Linked DNA regions of Homo sapiens: region 2 is linked to region 1. The links come from fine-mapping of genetic effects on gene expression. A gene starts in region 1. The other region holds a variant in brackets. All regions are shown on one strand. Distances are from middle to middle.

What was found. PIP is the estimated chance that this variant, and not a neighbour inherited with it, causes the effect.
Region 2: its variant is fine-mapped to the expression of SPTSSA in pancreas (GTEx, PIP 0.92).

Annotation. Positions count from the first base shown.
Region 1 is chr14:34,458,619-34,466,956 of GRCh38, reverse strand. It overlaps SPTSSA (serine palmitoyltransferase small subunit A), which reads left to right and starts at 4,717. Exons shown (of 2, transcript NM_138288.4): 1 at 4,717-4,861. The coding sequence starts at 4,750. RefSeq lists silencers at 4,195-4,704, 4,825-4,994 and enhancers at 3,904-4,854, 5,395-5,504, 7,865-8,338.
Region 2 is chr14:34,376,027-34,384,364 of GRCh38, reverse strand. No RefSeq gene overlaps it. Among named protein-coding and RNA genes, the nearest start is that of SPTSSA, 82 kb to the left of the region's middle. The variant T/G (reference allele first, on the strand shown) is at 4,883.

The sequences.
Region 1 (8,338 bases):
TTACTAACATGTATTTGAAAGACTGAAAGTGAGTCAAGGTCCTGGTTTGCTGATTAGACAGCAATCAGTGGTTGCCCCATAGTCCTGGAAACCACTTGGGGCCTGCTGGTGTCTGTCCTGATGCTGCTGTAAGTCAGATGTTGAGGTCAGCCTGGCCCACTTTGCCATCAGCACTATGTTGCTAAGGTACCAATGTTCTGCCTTCCCATTCTGCCCTGGTATTTCCATCTTCCAGGCACATCCCTGCAACAGAACCCTTCTTGCCAACCCTCTCTCTCTTGCCCCCGACTTCACTTTCCTGTATAAACAAAGACTCCTCTACTGTCACCCTCTTTGGGAACACTCTACCTCTTTCTTTTCCCCTGAGGATATGACCTAAGTCCTCCTACCAGAGAGCTGGGGGTGGGACTGGGGGTGGGGCGGGATTGGCTTTCTTCTTGCTCTCCAGTACTGCCTCCTAACCAAAACCATGTGCCACTGGGCTTTGCCCCCTTCATCCACCTGTCTCCTGAGTTTTCCTCTATGCTCACTGAAGACTTTGACATTTGCTTTACAGACTTTTCCTCTCGACACTTAGTTCTGCCATCATCCTGGACAACTTTATCTTTCCTGTGGTCTTTACTATCCCCTCCACTCCACTTTAGCTGCCTATCCCATGGTCACAACCTGTGCCTGGTCATTGTCTAAGACTGGCCTATTTCTGTACTCCTAAGCTTCAGAAGCACAGCCGTGGCCCTCCTCCTCCAACATAGACTCTTTCCCATGCACCTACTCCTACAGTTTCCAACCTCACACAGCTCTGGACTACTCCATTTTATCTTTTCATCATTTACTTCCCTCCGTGACCTAATTCTCCTAGTCATTATTTCAATTATTCTCTCTCCATCAACCTTCTTGCTTGTTTCTCCATTGTATCCATCCAGCAAACCCTGCCTTGGAGGAAGTCTCCTAATTCAACTTCTCTAGTTCTATATATACTCGGTACTTGTGTATTGTTGGTAAAAACTGTATGGTTTTTCTGCCTGACAATCCTTAGGCAGCTTTAGGAAACTTCTCCCATCTCCCTTTTTCTTTTTCATACCCTCCACTCTTCAACATCTTGCTCACTCTCAACAAGAGGCCTTTATTTTTTCACTAAGAAAACTGATGTTGTAAGGTAGGGAGTTCCTTAACTTACTTGTCTGTGTTTATGTCCATCTGGCTCCCATCTTTCCATCCTCCTCCTCTTGGGGAAAGAGCTACCAGTTCCTGTTTATTAAGGCTTTGGATCTGGTCCCCCAGCCCACCATCTTTATCCATATCTTTACTCTAAGCCCATAAACTTGCTTACTCCTTTCCCATCTGAAAATGAAACCAAACTGAAACCCTTGCCACCATTCTATCTCCTTCCCTTCACAGGCAAGCTTCCTGCAAAACTAAGCCTGAATTAACTGTCCTCATTGTTTTACTTCCTGTTCTCTCCTCAGCCTTCTATAATCCGGCTTCTGTCCTATCATCATTCCACAATGAAATGCTGAGTCATCAATCTAGCCCCATGTGGACAAAACAAATTGGCGCTTCCCTTCCTTATTTTGCTTATCCTCCCTGAGCCATTTGTTCTGCTGGCTATCCCTTCCTCCATTAGCTTCTCCTGTATGTCTCTCCTCATTGCTGTCAAATCTCAGGTAGCTCCTTCCCTGTATTGGCTTCCTTTGGACTCTCATTGGCCAAATGCCAGAATCTCTGGGTTTATTCTGTACCCTGCTCTTCCCATTCTATGTGCTTTCCTTGGGTGACCTCATCTGCTCTTCTGGCTTCAATGACCAGGGACATATTGAAAATTCATATGCCTCTAGTTCCATTCAGGCTTCACTTCTGAGTTCCAAACCATGTGCTCAATTGTCCCCTGGACACCTCCATTTAAGTGTCCCTCAGGTACCTCAGACATAGCTTCATCCTAACAAAATCAATATCTTTTCAGCCAAACGTCTTCCTTCGGTTTCTTTGTATTGTCATCATCCAGGATCTCAGCCTCTTTTCCTCATTTCTAGTCAGTCACCAACTTTAGTGAGATGAGGTGGTAGAGCTGGTCTCCGAGAGACACGCAGTGGATTGGGAGCTACTAACAGTGAGGACAACCACCTGGCAGACATGGTGCTAGGGAGTGGACCCAGTAAAGGAAGGGTGGCTACGGGTGATGCTTCCAATCTTGGATGAATTTTATGTAGCATCACCAGATGCTGAGGGTAGTTGGAGTTCTCGAGGAAAAAGGAATGAGCTTGCCTGTGCCTGAACAGGAACAGGGACAGAAAGAAGTCCAAAACAGTTAAGTTTGAAAGTAGGAGGGCACGTGTACCTGCATCTCTGAGGGGTAAGGAGGTTTCAAGTATTTGTGGGTTCTACCTTTGTAATGTCTTCCCAACCTGTTTTTTCCCTCGGTAGCCTCCAGGCTACTACCCACACCCAAGTCTTGTTCCGAAAGCATTTTTTTTTTTTAAACGGAGTCTTGCTCTTGTTGCCCAGGCTGGAGTGCAATGGTGTGATCTCAGCTCACTACGACCTCCGCCTCCCGGGTTCAAGCGATTCTCCTGCCTCAGCCTCCCAAATAGTTGGGATTACAGGCACCCACCATCACGCCCGGCTAATTTTTTATATTTTTAGTAGAGACGGGGTTTCACCATGTTGGCCAGGCTGGTCTGGAACTCCTGACCTCATGTGATCCACCCGCCTTGGACTCCCAAAGTGCTGGGATTATAGGTGTGAGCCACCACACCCAGCCCTGAAAGAAAATCTTATTTAAGTTGTTGGCTCCAGTAACTTTTGGACATCAAGTTAAAAATTTCTTAGCTTCTCAAACAAGGTCCTTCAGAATATGGTCCCTGTTTGCTGTCTAGGCCCATCTCTTGCTACTGCATATACATTCTTTTTGCTCCAGCCACATGGAAGTTCTTCCAGTCTTCTAAAAACATCACAACTTCATCCTTAGAATGTCTGTCTCACCCTCTCTTCCCCAAGCTCATTCATTCTTCCATTTCTGCTTGTCCTTCAACACTCAGTTCAAGCACCATTTCTCAGAAGACTTTCACAAGCCCAATCTGATTTTGTCTGGGCTATCTTGGTATCCTAAAGGATACGATCCACAAAAATATCATTTACCACACCTCACTGTAATCCATTAACTTGCCTCTCTTCCCCAGCAGACTGGGTACTTTATGAAGGCAGGTCTCAGTCTATCTGGCTTGCTATCCCAATGTCTGGCACTTGATATTACTTACTGTTTTCTTTCTTTTCTTCTCTTCTCTTCTGTTTTCTCCTCTCTTTCTCTGTCTCCTTTCTTTCCTTTCTTTTGCTCTGCCACCTAAGATGGAGTGCAGTGGCACCATCCTGGCTCACTGCAACCTCGACCTCCCGTGCTCGAGCAATCCTCCCGCCTCAACCTCCTGAGTAGCTGGGACTACAGGTGCACGCCACCACCCCTGGCTAACTTTTTGTTATGTATTTACTTATTTTTTTTGGTAGAGACGGGGTTTCACCATGTTGCTCAGGCTGGTCTCGACCTTCTGGACTCAAGTGATCCGCCAGCCTCAGCCTCCCAAAGTGCTTGGATTACAGGCATGAGCTACGGCGCTTGGCCGGCACTTGGTACTTTTAATGAATAGTTATTAACCATGAAACTTTTAAAGTTTAAGCAGTAGTATGTTTAACCTGGAAGACTTTTAACATTTAAACAGCAGGCCATTTAATTGTGGCAGTTCACATGCTACACCAGTGCATGGAGCTCCTTGTGGCCAGTGCAATGTTGCTGGCCCATCTGGCAGTGGGAAAATCTGGGCATCCAGGAGTGCATCTCTAGGGAAGTATCACCAGCCCTCACACCAATCTCAAGCTGCCTGTCTTCTGCAGAACCCACTAGATCAGCGCGCTTCTGGCCTTGACCCACTTGGTGGTTACCTACAGCCACTAAGAGGTGGGCAGATAGATGTTTTTGGTAAGTGGTCTCTGGGTTAGGGAGTGCATGGGTTATGTCCGTCTAGGGGTGTGTGTGTGTGTGTGTGTGTGTGTGTGTGTGTGTGTGTGTGTGTGCATGGGTGGGGGAAGGGAGGAAGGAGGCCGAATGTGCATCCCTTCTACAAGGACGCCTTTCCAGACCTCCTTATTAGGTGGCGTTCGCCTCCTCACCCTCTCTCAGCCCCTTATCTCCTCTTACACGGATCACGACTTGATTAATGCTTGTCTCCCAGCTAGGCCGCCAGCTGCACAAGGTAAGGAACCGAAGGCATTCCGGTTCTCCCTGGCAATCCTCCTTCTCAGAAGGATGCCTGAGGCATAACAAGTGTTCCAGAAATATTTCTTCCGCAAGCGCTCTGGGCCAGTCTGGACGGACCGAGCGCCCGCTGGGCTGCGGGGGCCCCGGGACCCCGGCCGGCACTGACGCCCCGCCCACCACCGGCCGGCCCGGGCGGGGTGGGGCGCGGCTGGGCGCTCTCGCGGGGACCGTTCTCCGGCTAGCGTGGGCGATGCCCGGGCGGGGAAACGGGAGGGGACGACGCGACGCGAGGTAGCGGCCTGGCCAATGAGCGCGGGTCGGGCGGGGCTGGGGGCCGGCGGCCGGGGCGCGCGCGGGTCTGGGCGTGCCGCGGGTGACGGCGGGGCCGGGCGGGCCAATGGGCGCTGGGTGGCGGGCGGGCGGGCCTGGCGGCCGGGGGCTTTAGGACGTGAGCGGGCGGCCGGCCGGACAGACTGACGTGTGAGCTGCATCGCGGGAGGCGCATGGCGGGGATGGCGCTGGCGCGGGCCTGGAAGCAGATGTCCTGGTTCTACTACCAGTACCTGCTGGTCACGGCGCTCTACATGCTGGAGCCCTGGGAGCGGACGGTGTTCAGTATCCTGTCCCGGCCGCGCGCGCGGGGGCCGGGCTGGGGGCGCGGGCCGCGGGGCCGCATTTCCCCAGGCCCCGGGCCTGGGGTGGAGGCTGGAGCGGCGGCCCCGCCGGTCCTGTGCGCGGAAGCCGGGGGTGCAGGGGGAGGTCTGGGGGCCGAGGGCGGCGCTCGCGGGGTTAAGTGGGGGGTGGGGGAGACGAGAACTCTTGAGATCCGGGGTCACCTGTGAGTCGCTGGACCCAAGGGGGAAGCGTCTTGATTCCTGGAGGAAATCTCCGAAGGTGATGTGTAACCCTGTGTGTCGCCTGCACTTCGGCCGCAACTGCCTTTGGTTCAGTCCCCTGTTCCTGTAGGAGGCGGGGATCATGTAACAGTGGAGCACATCGCTCCCGGCTTGGACGCCTTTGACCTTTAAGTGTTCCTGATTTAGTTGGCTTTGGGTCTACCAAGAATTCTAGTCAGTTAACTAGCTTTTAAGCCAGGTTCTGAATTTGTAGGCATGACACTCCAGTAGTTTTTGAAAGCAGTTTAAGTTATTGTATCTTTTTGGTCTTCAAGTTGGGGAGTTTTAAAAGTGTATTTATTGCTTCTGTGCACCGTCCGTAGAAGTCGGCCCGAAAAGTGGTGCAATTTGTGGTTAGTTGTCGGTAGGGTTTGAAACTGTGTTTTGGTGGATAGTTAATAAATTCTTGTTAATGACTATTGAGTGGTTACTATAAGCAAAGCATTTGTGCAAAGCACGTTGTCTGTATCTTAACTCATCTAACTTTGAGAACTTCAGTTAATAACTCAGGGTTGTGAAGATAGGCTCCCTGAAAGTCTGATGTTTCTTGTCTCTGCTTGTCCATATTGACATCCTTTGATGATATTCTTGCAGATTAAATACTGATAATGAATGAGATGTAACTTTTAAAAAACTCAGGCCAATACAAAACAGGTATTTCACAAAACATGTTTAGTTTATCCACGTTCTCTCCTTTTCAGTGTGGTTTAGTTGGAGTAGCTTACTTCAGAATAACTTTGCGAATGCATTGTTGCATTCCAGTGAGTGACTGAGGTAATTTCATTCTAAGCCTTATCAAGTGTGTTTATTTGTTTTGAGATAGCTTAAGGTTGTACTCAAAGCTGAGTCTTTTGTTTAAGCACTTTTGAGGAATTTGAGATGCTTTCAAAGCAGTTTATTTATTTATTACTGTTGGCATTTCTTTCCAAACCTGGAATTTAAGAACCAGAATGCATATTTTGGATTTAGACTCTGAATATAGTTTGCTTTGATTTCCTGCACCATTTATTTGTAGCTGCAGTTTAGTCTCACTCTTTAGGGCTCGCAAGGTCATGCCTTGTAAAATATATACTTGAATGCATATTTAATAGAAGTCTCTCAGTAGAAGCAAGTATATCTTGACTGACATAACACATCCTAAAATTAATTTAAACAATGCTGGGTTAAAATGAAACTCTTTAAATCAGAGGTTGAATGTAGAGTGCACTATTAGAATCTAGTATAGATTTGACACCTAAAATCTAATATAGATTTTACACACTAAAATGCTACAGTTATCAATGATGTTAAGATTTTTCTGTTATGTTGCAATAGTGATAGTGTCCTATAAATAACTAGGTGATGCCTTTTTTGGGGGATGGAGAAATAAATTATGAAATGAAATATAGTGCCTTAGTAGATATTTGCCTTTAATGTTTTTGAGTTACCATGGTTTAGCGACAAGTAGTTTCAATTTTTTTTTCAAATAGGTGAGAACTGCAACCAACTGACATCCAATATTATAGAACCTTATGATTTTAAACTTAAGATAAAAAAATCTTATTTCAAATTTCACGTTATTGAATTAACTCAGGTTAGAAATGCAATTGTTTGACATAAGCCAGTCTTGAATTACTATCAGCTGTTGTATTTATATTTTTCCACTTCAACTTCTAGAATCATTTAAAACTATCTGATAGTTTGGAACATCAATTTGAGATTGAATCCTCATTTTAGCTTGGTGGAAAGAACTGAATGAGAAAACTGGATTTTTTTCCCTACTTGTCAGGAGGCTTACTCTGAAGTAGTTTGAATTTCATAAATCCATTAATGATTAGTAAGCTTCACCCAGAACTAATCTGTGGCCAGCTACAGGCTTTTGGAAAGAGGCATACTTTCTACAGCTTAAACATTACATTCAACTTAATCATCAATCCTAGAAACCTAAAATTTAGAGAAATTTGCCTCTGCCTGTCTGAAAATTTGTCTCTGAGTTAGAAGTCCTGAACAGAGGAAGACTTCAGATTGATTTCTTTTCTTTGTGTGTGTGTGTGTGAGACAGTGTTTTGTTCTTGTTGCCCGGCTGGAGTGTAATGTCGCCATCTTGGCTCACTGCAACCTCCGCCTCCCAGGTTCAAGCGATTCTCCTGCCTCAGCCTCCAGAATAGCCGGGATTACAGGTGCCTGCCACCACGCCTGGCTAATTTTTGTATTTTTAGTAGAGATGGGGTTTCGCCATGTTGGCCAGGCTGGTCTCGAACTCCTGACCTCAAGTGATCTGCCCACTGCAGCCTCCCAAAATGCTGGGATTACAGGCATGAGCTACCACGCCTGGCCAGATTAATTTTCTTCTTTTTCTTTTTCTTTTTTTTTTTTTGAGACGGTGTCTCGCTCTGTTGCCGAGGCTGGAGTGTGGTGGTGCAATCTTGGCTCACTGCAACTTTGCATCCCGGATTCAAGCGATTCTCCTGCCTCAGCCTTCTGAGGTAGCTGGGATTACAGGTGCCCACCACCACGCCCAGCTAATTTTTGTATTTTTAATAGAGGCGGAGTTGGGGGTGGGGTGGGGGTGGGGTGGTTTTACCATGTTGGCCAGTCTGGTCTCAAACTCCTGACCTCAAGTGATCCGCCTGCCTTGGCCTCCCAAAAGTGCTGGGATTACAGGTGTGAGCCACCGCGCCTGGCCCAGATTAATTTCTTAAAGAGGATAGATGCATTAGTTTACATTTCCTGCTATATAATGCATTTTTAAAAATTTGAAGTTGTGGGCCGAGTGTGGTGGTGGACGCCTGAAATCCCACTAGTCGGGAGGCTGAGGCAGGAGAATCGCTTGAACCCGGGAGGCGGAGGTTGCAGTGAGCCGAGATCACGCCACTGCACTCTAGCCTCAGTGACAGAGTGAGACTCCGTCTCAAAAAAAAAAAAAAAAAAGTTGTAATTTCAGGGGAAATTGATAACGTACTATCACTGTACTTTCCAGGGGCATCCTTGAGCATCTGAATGGATGTTTAGAAATTATTTGCTTCTTGACTTCCCAAGTCAAATAGCTAGAAGTTAGTTAAAAGCTGTTGTAAATTGAAAGTCAATCTTGGCCGGGCGCGGTGGCGGTTCACCAGTCTGGCCAACATGGTGAAACCCCATCTCTACCAAAAAAAAAAAAAAAAAAAAAAAATTAGCTGAGTGTGGTGGCGCACGACTGTAGTCCCAGCTACTCGGG
Region 2 (8,338 bases), 83 kb after region 1:
ATTCTGCCTCCATGCAGTGGGAATAGGACAAAACTAAAAATCAGTTTAAAGAGTTTATACGTGTTTACACTTTATAACAGGTGTTTACACTGCTTCCTAAGAAATTAATTACACATGAACTAATTCTAACATGAAAGACTGTGGACACTTATAATGCATACACAATAAACAACCAATGAATATGCATTCAATCAATGAACACTTATGAAGCACCTCAGCTGGGTATTGGGGCCTGTGAGGATAACTAGGAACTGATTTATGCTCTCAAGAAGCATGCAATCTAGTCTGAGAAGTCCCGGTCTAGCCTGGAGATTTCTTCAGGTTGCATAAGAATCACAGTGGTGTTGGTTGTGGCACTGGTTTGAATGCATCTCTACTTTTAAGTCTGATTCAGTAGGTCTGGGTTGGGACCTAGGGATCTGCATTTTAACAAACACCTTGTTCTACAGGTCGTCAGTGGAGAAATAATAATCTAGCTCTCCAAATAGCACCACATACAGAAGCAACTTTTACTGTATTGGGTCATGTATTATTGATTCTCACAGAGTTTGTCCCAGAATCCAGGACACTATTATCCATTTGGATAAAACAAAGTTTCTGCTTGTTCTTTGTTACATCAAATGAAAACAGCTGGATAGATTTTCACCAAATTAGAAGAGGATATTTGGGCTTGTCTGACTTAAGAGGTAAAGGAAATTTATTTTAGGGGTTCCCGAAGAGGGGTGTCCTTTGAAGAGACGGGCAGCTATCTTCCAGAGCCATATCAAATGCTGATTTCTGACAATGCCACTTCCCCCACAAGCAATCTAGGCTGAGGGTGGGAGCAGCAGGAGTTTATTGATGTAATGCTGGGTTAGTGATTGATGTGAGCAGCCCAGGGGAGGCCAGGGACCTGATAACAGCATCTTCACAAAAACATATGCTGGAGAAAATGGACCATAAATATGTAAACAGAGAGTTTTTTCTTGTTTTGAGACAGAGTCCCAGGCTGGAGTGCCATGGTGTGATCTCAGCTCACCGTAATCTCTGCCTCCCAGGTTCAAGCAATTCTCCTGCCTCAGCCTCCTGAGTAGCTGGGATTACAGGTGCATGCCACCATACCTGCTAATTTTTGTATTTTTTGTAGAGACAGGGTTTCGCCATGATGCCCAGGCTGGTCTTGAACTCCTGGCCTCAAGTGATCTACCCACCCCAGGCTCCCAGAATGCTGGGATTACAGGTATGAGCCACCAGGTCTGGCCTAGACAGACAGTTTTAATCCCCATTTTCCTATTTGTTTGGGAAGTCTGGACAATGATCTTGCCTTCTCTGTTTGTTTCTCTGGTTACATCATTAGGAGCATGCTGACTTTTTTCCATAAGGTTGTTGTAAGGAATAGTGAATAAAAGCCTCTGTTAAGCACTTGAAAATTTTATAAAGATGAGTTTTTTTAAAAGATGAGTTTCGTTGTAGTTAAAAATGTAGAATAAGTGGGACAAGCTAAATTTTATTGCAAGACCTTGAACTTAGTTTAATCCAGCATTACTTTTTAGTATATTGATCATTTCATTTCGTTCATTGTTTAGATGACTCAGTGTACAGATGTGATGTAATTTTAAAATAACATATGCTTACAGCAAAAGAAACTATCAATCAAGTCAACAGACAACCTACGGAATGGGAGAAAATATTTGCAAACTATGCATCCCACAAAGGTCGACTATCTAGAATCTAAAAGAACTTAAATTTATAAGCAAATAACAATCCCATTAAAAAGTGGGCAAAGGACGTGAACAGACCCTTTTAAAAAGAAGGCATACATGCAGCCAACAAGCATATGAAAAAATGTTTAACCTAATCATTAGAGAAATGCAAATCAAAATCATGGTAAGAGACCATTTCACACCAGTCAGCTGGCTATTGCTAAAAAGTCAAAAAGTAACAGATGCTGGTGAGGTTGTGAAGAAAAGGGAATGCTTATACACTGCTGGTGAGAGTGTAAATTAGTTCAGCCAATGTGGAAAGCAGTTTGGCAATTCCTCAAAGAACTTAAAACAGCCTTACCCAGTCCAGGTGCAGTAGCTCAGGCCTGTGATCCCAGGACTTTGCAAGGCTAAGCTGGGTGGATCACTTGAGGTCAGGAGTTCAAGACCAGCCTGGCCAACATGGGCAAACCTCTACTAAAAATACAAAAAACTTAGGTGGGTGTGGTGGCACATGCCTGTAATCCCAGCTACTTGGGAGGCTGAGGCATGAGAATTGCTTGAACCTAGGAAGTGGAGGTCCCAGTGAGCCGAGAGTACGCCACTGCTCTCCAGCCTGGGTGACAGAGTGAGACTCTGTCCCAAAAAAACAAAACAAGGCCGGGCGCAGTGGCTCATGCCTGTAATCCCAGCACTTAGGGAGGCTGAGGCGGGCAGATCACGAGGTCAGGAGATTGAGACCATCCTGGCTAACACAGTGAAACCCCGTCTCTACTAAAAATACAAAAAATTAGCCGGGCGTGGTGGTGGGCGCCTGTAGTCCCAGCTACTTGGGAGGCTGAGGCAGGAGAATGGCCTGAATCTGGGAGGCGGAGCTTGCAGTGAGCTGAGATTGCACCACTGCACTCCAGCCTGGGCGACAGTGCGAGACTCCGTCTCAAACAAATCAAAACAAAACAAAACCTAGACTTACTGTTTAACCCAAAAATCCCATTATTGGGTATATACCCAAAGGAATACAAATTGTTCTACCATAAAGACACATGCACACATATGTTCATTATGGCACTATTCACAATAGCAAAGACATGGAATCAACCTAAATTCCCATCAACTGTAGGCTGGATAAAGAAAATGTGGTGCATATACGCCATGGAATACTATGCAGCCATAAAAAAGGATGAGATCATGTCCTTTGCAGCAACATGGGTGGAGCTGGAGGCCATTATCCTAGGCAACCTAACACAGGAACAGAAAACCAAACACCACATATTCTCACTTATAAGTGGGAGCTTATAACAAGAAAAATGCATAGACACTAGGAGGGGAACAACAGACACTGCAGCTGACTTGAGGGTGGAGGGTAGAAGTCGGGAGAGGACTAGACAAAATACCTATCAGCGACTATGCTTATTACCTGGGTGACGAAATTATCTGTACACCAAACCCTGGTGACATGCAGTTGACCTATATAACAAACCTGCACATGTATCCCTGAACCTAAAATACAAGTTCAAAAAAATCATAATAAAATAAAATAAAATAAATGAAACCACATGTGCTTAGATTTTAAAAATCTAACAAGCCAGGCATAGTGGTGTTCACCTGTAGTCCCACCTACTTGGGAGGCTGAGGCAGGAGAATTCTTTGAGTCCAGGAGTTCAAGTCCAGCATGGGTAACATAGAGAGACCCCCGCCCCCTTACCAAATCTCTAAAGACAGACAGACAGACAGACAAACAAACAAACATCTAGCACGGGAACAAAGGCAATTGGAAAATAGGTTAAGCATATTTTTAGGAAGCTGAACAAGTTTTTAAGAGCTAAAACAAGTGAGAAGTATGCTAAGTAATGAAGTGTGGACTTACAAAGCAGCCTACTGTAAATTCTTTTGATTATTAATTTGCTAAAGGCCCTTGAGTCATGAATACAGATGAAAATCTATGGAAAATTGACACGTGTTCTCAAATTGGGGCCATACATCACCACGGCCAAGATATGGTGCAATATGATAGTCTTAAATGCTTAACGTAATGCTATGCCTATAATTACATGTATGGCGTTATCTTTAATATGAACTGATTAATGAGGGTGACATAAAGCAAGGATGAATGTTAGTTATTCAGACACTGATGTTCAGATAGCCACCTGAGAAGTCATTTTTCTCAAAGTTCTATTCCTTAAGGATTGTAGAAATGTCAATTGTTTTTGCAGTTTCCATTTCAAGAAGCAGTTATTCATAATCCCCAGAGAACTCTTCCCTAACAGACTACAATAAAACTTACAATTAATGGTGGTGACATTTTAGACCTAAATTACTGCCTTCATGCTTTAAATCATTATCCTGCTATCCCTATGCATGGAACTTTCAAAGTTTTCATTTCATTCCTGGCTTATCTCTCATCTCCACTGCGTGACTAGTTCCTTGTCCCTTACAAACGAATGCAGGAGGCTGAATTTCTAATGTTCCCCTTAAAATTCTCCTACTTGTTAACAGTACTTTTATGGTAGTTCATCTAAAATAGTTTTTCAACAAACTTCTCAAAGGCTGTCTCTGGCTGTCCATTTTCTTTCTTCATTTTTTAGCTGAATAGCTGGTATACACTAGTCCATTCTGGTATTTGTGTGTTTCCTCCCCTCTCTCTCTTTTTCTACTTTATTTCTCAAAGGTGATTGATATCTTCAATCCCTAGTTACCCCATCATGTGAGCCTCTTTGTTCTCCATGTCCTTCCCACTCTGCTCACAGGGCCCTTGGACTCTGCCTCCCTCTCTCTATCCTTCTTCAAAGGCCACTAAAGAGGTTCTTTTTACGAACTTTTTCTTGGTAAACTGAAGACAGAGTGCTGGGAAACGAAACCTTGAAAAAGACCTTGGAAACCTTGACCAGACGCTGGGCAGTCTGGTTCCCTTTGTCTCTCAGCCCCCAAGGGCTTCTCTCCTCTATCCCTGCTGTGAGCTAGTCACTGGAAAAACACACCTGACCTTGCCAGCCAAGTGAGGGTGCCAAGAATGAGAGGGAAGCATTCTTCTCATCAGCAGATGGGAGGTCTCCCTCAAAGGATTTCTCAATGCCGCCTGAATCAAAGCCTGTGTTTCCCAGAGCAAGGTATTCCCTGGAGGCCTCCTGAGCTCTGGCCACAGTGTTCTCATACAGCTAGCAAGAAGTCATAATGGAATTCGCTCCAACAATCCCACTGCC[T/G]TGTTGTTGTTCTGTTCTTGAAGCTTACTCTGTATCATAAACATAATTATAAGAAGAAGTTAAACATATAAATGTGTTCTAAAGAAATGGGCTTTTGTGGCAGGGCGCAGTGGCTAACGCCTGTAATCCCAGCACTTTGGGAGGCCGAGGTGGGTGGATCACCTGAGGTTGGGAGTTCGAGACCAGCCTGGCCAACATGGTGAAACCCCCGTCTCCACGAAAAATGCAAAAATTACCCGGGTGAAGTGACACGTGCCTGTAATCCCAGCTACTCAGAGGCTGGGGAAGGAGAATCACTTGAACCTGGGAGGCAGAGGTTGCAGAGAGCCGAGATCGCGCCACTGCACTCCAGCCTGGGCGACAGAGCGAGACTCTGTCTCAGAAACAAAACAAAACAGAAATGGGCTTTTGCTATGCAGTGGATGGGACCTCGGCTTTTTGAGAGTGATTGGTGGTATGCAAAATGTGGAGAATCCCTCCTCGAGGCCAGATTCTTTGGTATCAATAGTGCTTCATGTAGAGATCCTTTTGTTTGGATCTCTACAATCTTTGGATTGTTTGTCAGAGATTGAGAAGGCACCAGTCTCCTCCTTTTCCCATTGGTTACCACCTCCTGTGTGCATAGAATATTGTATTTTTAAAATCATAGAGTTAGAACATAGGGGTGTGGGTAAATTTTCCTTAGTCCAATACAATTAATTTGATATCCAAAATGAGCTTGTTTCCTGCTTTGCATTTCAACCCCCTAACCCACCCATCCCCACTTTACCCAACATTCTTTGAAGGCTGGGGTTTATCTCATCGTTGAGAAGGAAAAGGCCAAAGGCTTGACTTTCAAATAATTCATTTCCTGCAGTCGCTCACATTCCCAGTCTCTTTTCTTGTTCCTATTTTTAGCTGGTCATAGCTCTTTATAATTTGGAAATTAAAGTCCTTAAAAACAAAGAAATAAACAATTTCACTGGGATGACTGTCAATTTTAAAATAAGCAATTGTTGAGTGCCTACTATAAACTCAGAATGGACTAGGCACTTAAAAAAAGCCAAATTAAAAACAAGGTCCATGTCATTAAGAATCTCATAGTCAGCAGGGAAGGCAGTTGCATAAACAAATAATTTAATACAAAGAAATAAATTGCTTTCATGAGGTTATATATCTGGACCAATGAGAAAATCGGAGAAATGGAGCTTCTTAGTAGATCTGGGCAATGCAGACAAAGCTTTCCAACAGACATATCTTCTCTAGGAGGAGTGTGTGGGGAGGGGTTGTTACAGAGGTGGAGGGGATAGTATGTAGCTCAGAGAATGGCATGTGTGCAGGCCCAGTGGCTCTGGAGGACAGCACGTACTCAGAGTCACCACAGCAATCGAGTATGTCTGGAGAACTGGCTGTGAATGGGTGCAGAAGGAGACTGAGACTAGGAAGGAATGCAGGGATGAAGATCACAGAAGGCCTTGCCTACCATGGAAAAGGAGTTTGTTAGGTTTTATCTTCAAGACACTAGGAAGCCACTGAAAGATTCTGAGCAGGGTAGTGGTGTGATCAGACTTTTGTGTTGGAAACATCCTCTGTAGAGAAAGAAGGGTGGAAGATAGATTGGAGGGCAGCAAGACTGGAGGCAAGAAAGACCAGTGGGAGGATGCTTGTTTAATATTTAGTTTAAGAGAGACAATGAAGACAAGAACAGGGCAGTGGGGTAGAGATAGAGAAGAAAAGTTTATAAGATACATAGGATTTGGTGATTGATTACTTATGGAGCAAGAAAGAGAGACATTTCTGGCTTGGTCAGCTTGACATTTCTCAAGATAGAGAAGACAGAGGAATAGGATTTTTGTGGCAGGGGTTGGGAAGAGGAAGGATCCCTCTGTGGTCTCAGTCTAGGAAGTCCCCCAACCTTCCTTGGTTCTCCATGACCTGAACTTTGAGAGTCCAGATCAGTTGTCCCACACGACAGCCTATACCCTGGATCATAGTTAGATTTAAACCTGCTATTTTCAGTAGTTTACCAGTAAGTGATGTTTGTACCTCCCACTGTGTCACATCAAAGAGAATCTAATGTTAGGAGCCCATCCCTTTTATAGTGAGACTTTTGACTATCATATCAGAAATTGTCCAGATTATTGGATCTTACAAATCAGACATATATGAGTATATATATATATATTTTTTTTTTGGTGGTCCTGGTCTTTTGTAAAAAATGATACATGTTCTGAGTATTTCATCTTTAAAGTATGGCTTAATGAAAGCCAACTTTGGAGCTATTTATTCAGATTGTTTTTTCTTGGTTTTATGTTCCCATGGAAACCTGTATAGCAAATAGGTTGTTCTGAGTGAGGCCTGGCCTGGTTCAGTTAAATCCAAAGGCTTCAGTCAATCTGGTTCACTGACATGAGTAATTTTCTGTCTGCCTAACCATTATCCCCTACAATTCTGATAGATAAACCAGTGTTTAAGGGGCAGACAGAGAGGAGTTGCCTACTGAGAAGACTGAGAAGCAGCAGCCAGAGAGAGAAAAGGTGAATTGGGAGCAAGGGAATGTCTATATCAGTCAGGACTCATTGGTGGCAAATAACAGAAGCCAGTGCAAACCGACTGAAGGAAAGAAAGGAGAGTCTTACACAGATACGGGAGTAGTCAGATATGCAGATATAGGCATGTAACTGGAATTTGTGGCTAGAACATTTTGGGAAATGCAATAACTTCATTTTTCTTCTCTATTCCAAAATACTTGGGAAGTCACTGGTTGGTCTTGCTTGGTGAGGCCCAGCCCTGGGTGGTCAGCCCTGGCAGGAAGCGGGAGGGCTGCAAGTACAAAAACAGGGTGGTTGGGGGCCAAACTGGGTGTTAAGGGCATTTCCTAGAAAAGAAGACATTGTTGGCCAGGCTCTAAGAGGGATTTATCACAGTGATGTCAAGACACTGAGGAAAAGAGTTTCAGGATATGGGATGGGTTGCTGTGATATACAGCAGGAGGTCAAATGAGAGGGGAAAAATACTCCTTGGGTTTGGCATTTGGACTGTCAATGGTAACTTTAGCAGGATTGCTTTTAGTGGAGTGAGGGCAGGGGATTCAGGAGAGAGTGAGAAGAAAGGGGCACAAAGATCTGTGTCCTAGAAGCTTGCTTTGAAAGGAAAGAGAGATGTCCACTAGCAGCTAAGGTTTAAGGTGGAAGAGACTTTTGCTAAAGCTGGGATTCTTCACCTGGGCTCCAGGGCTCTGGGAATCTCTCAAGCCTTTGGAAATAGCATGTAAATTTACCTGCTTCTCAAAGAGATCTGTGATCCACAAATACTAAGAACCACCGTGCTAAAGGAATGGTGGCAATAGAAAGGGAGAAGTGAAGGAAATGGGAGAGGTGATAGATACCTTGAGGAGGGGGCCAGAGTAGGAGCCAGAACACAAGAAGGATGACCTTTGTTGGGAAGAGGATGGTTGGTTTATTTCTTCTTCTGAGG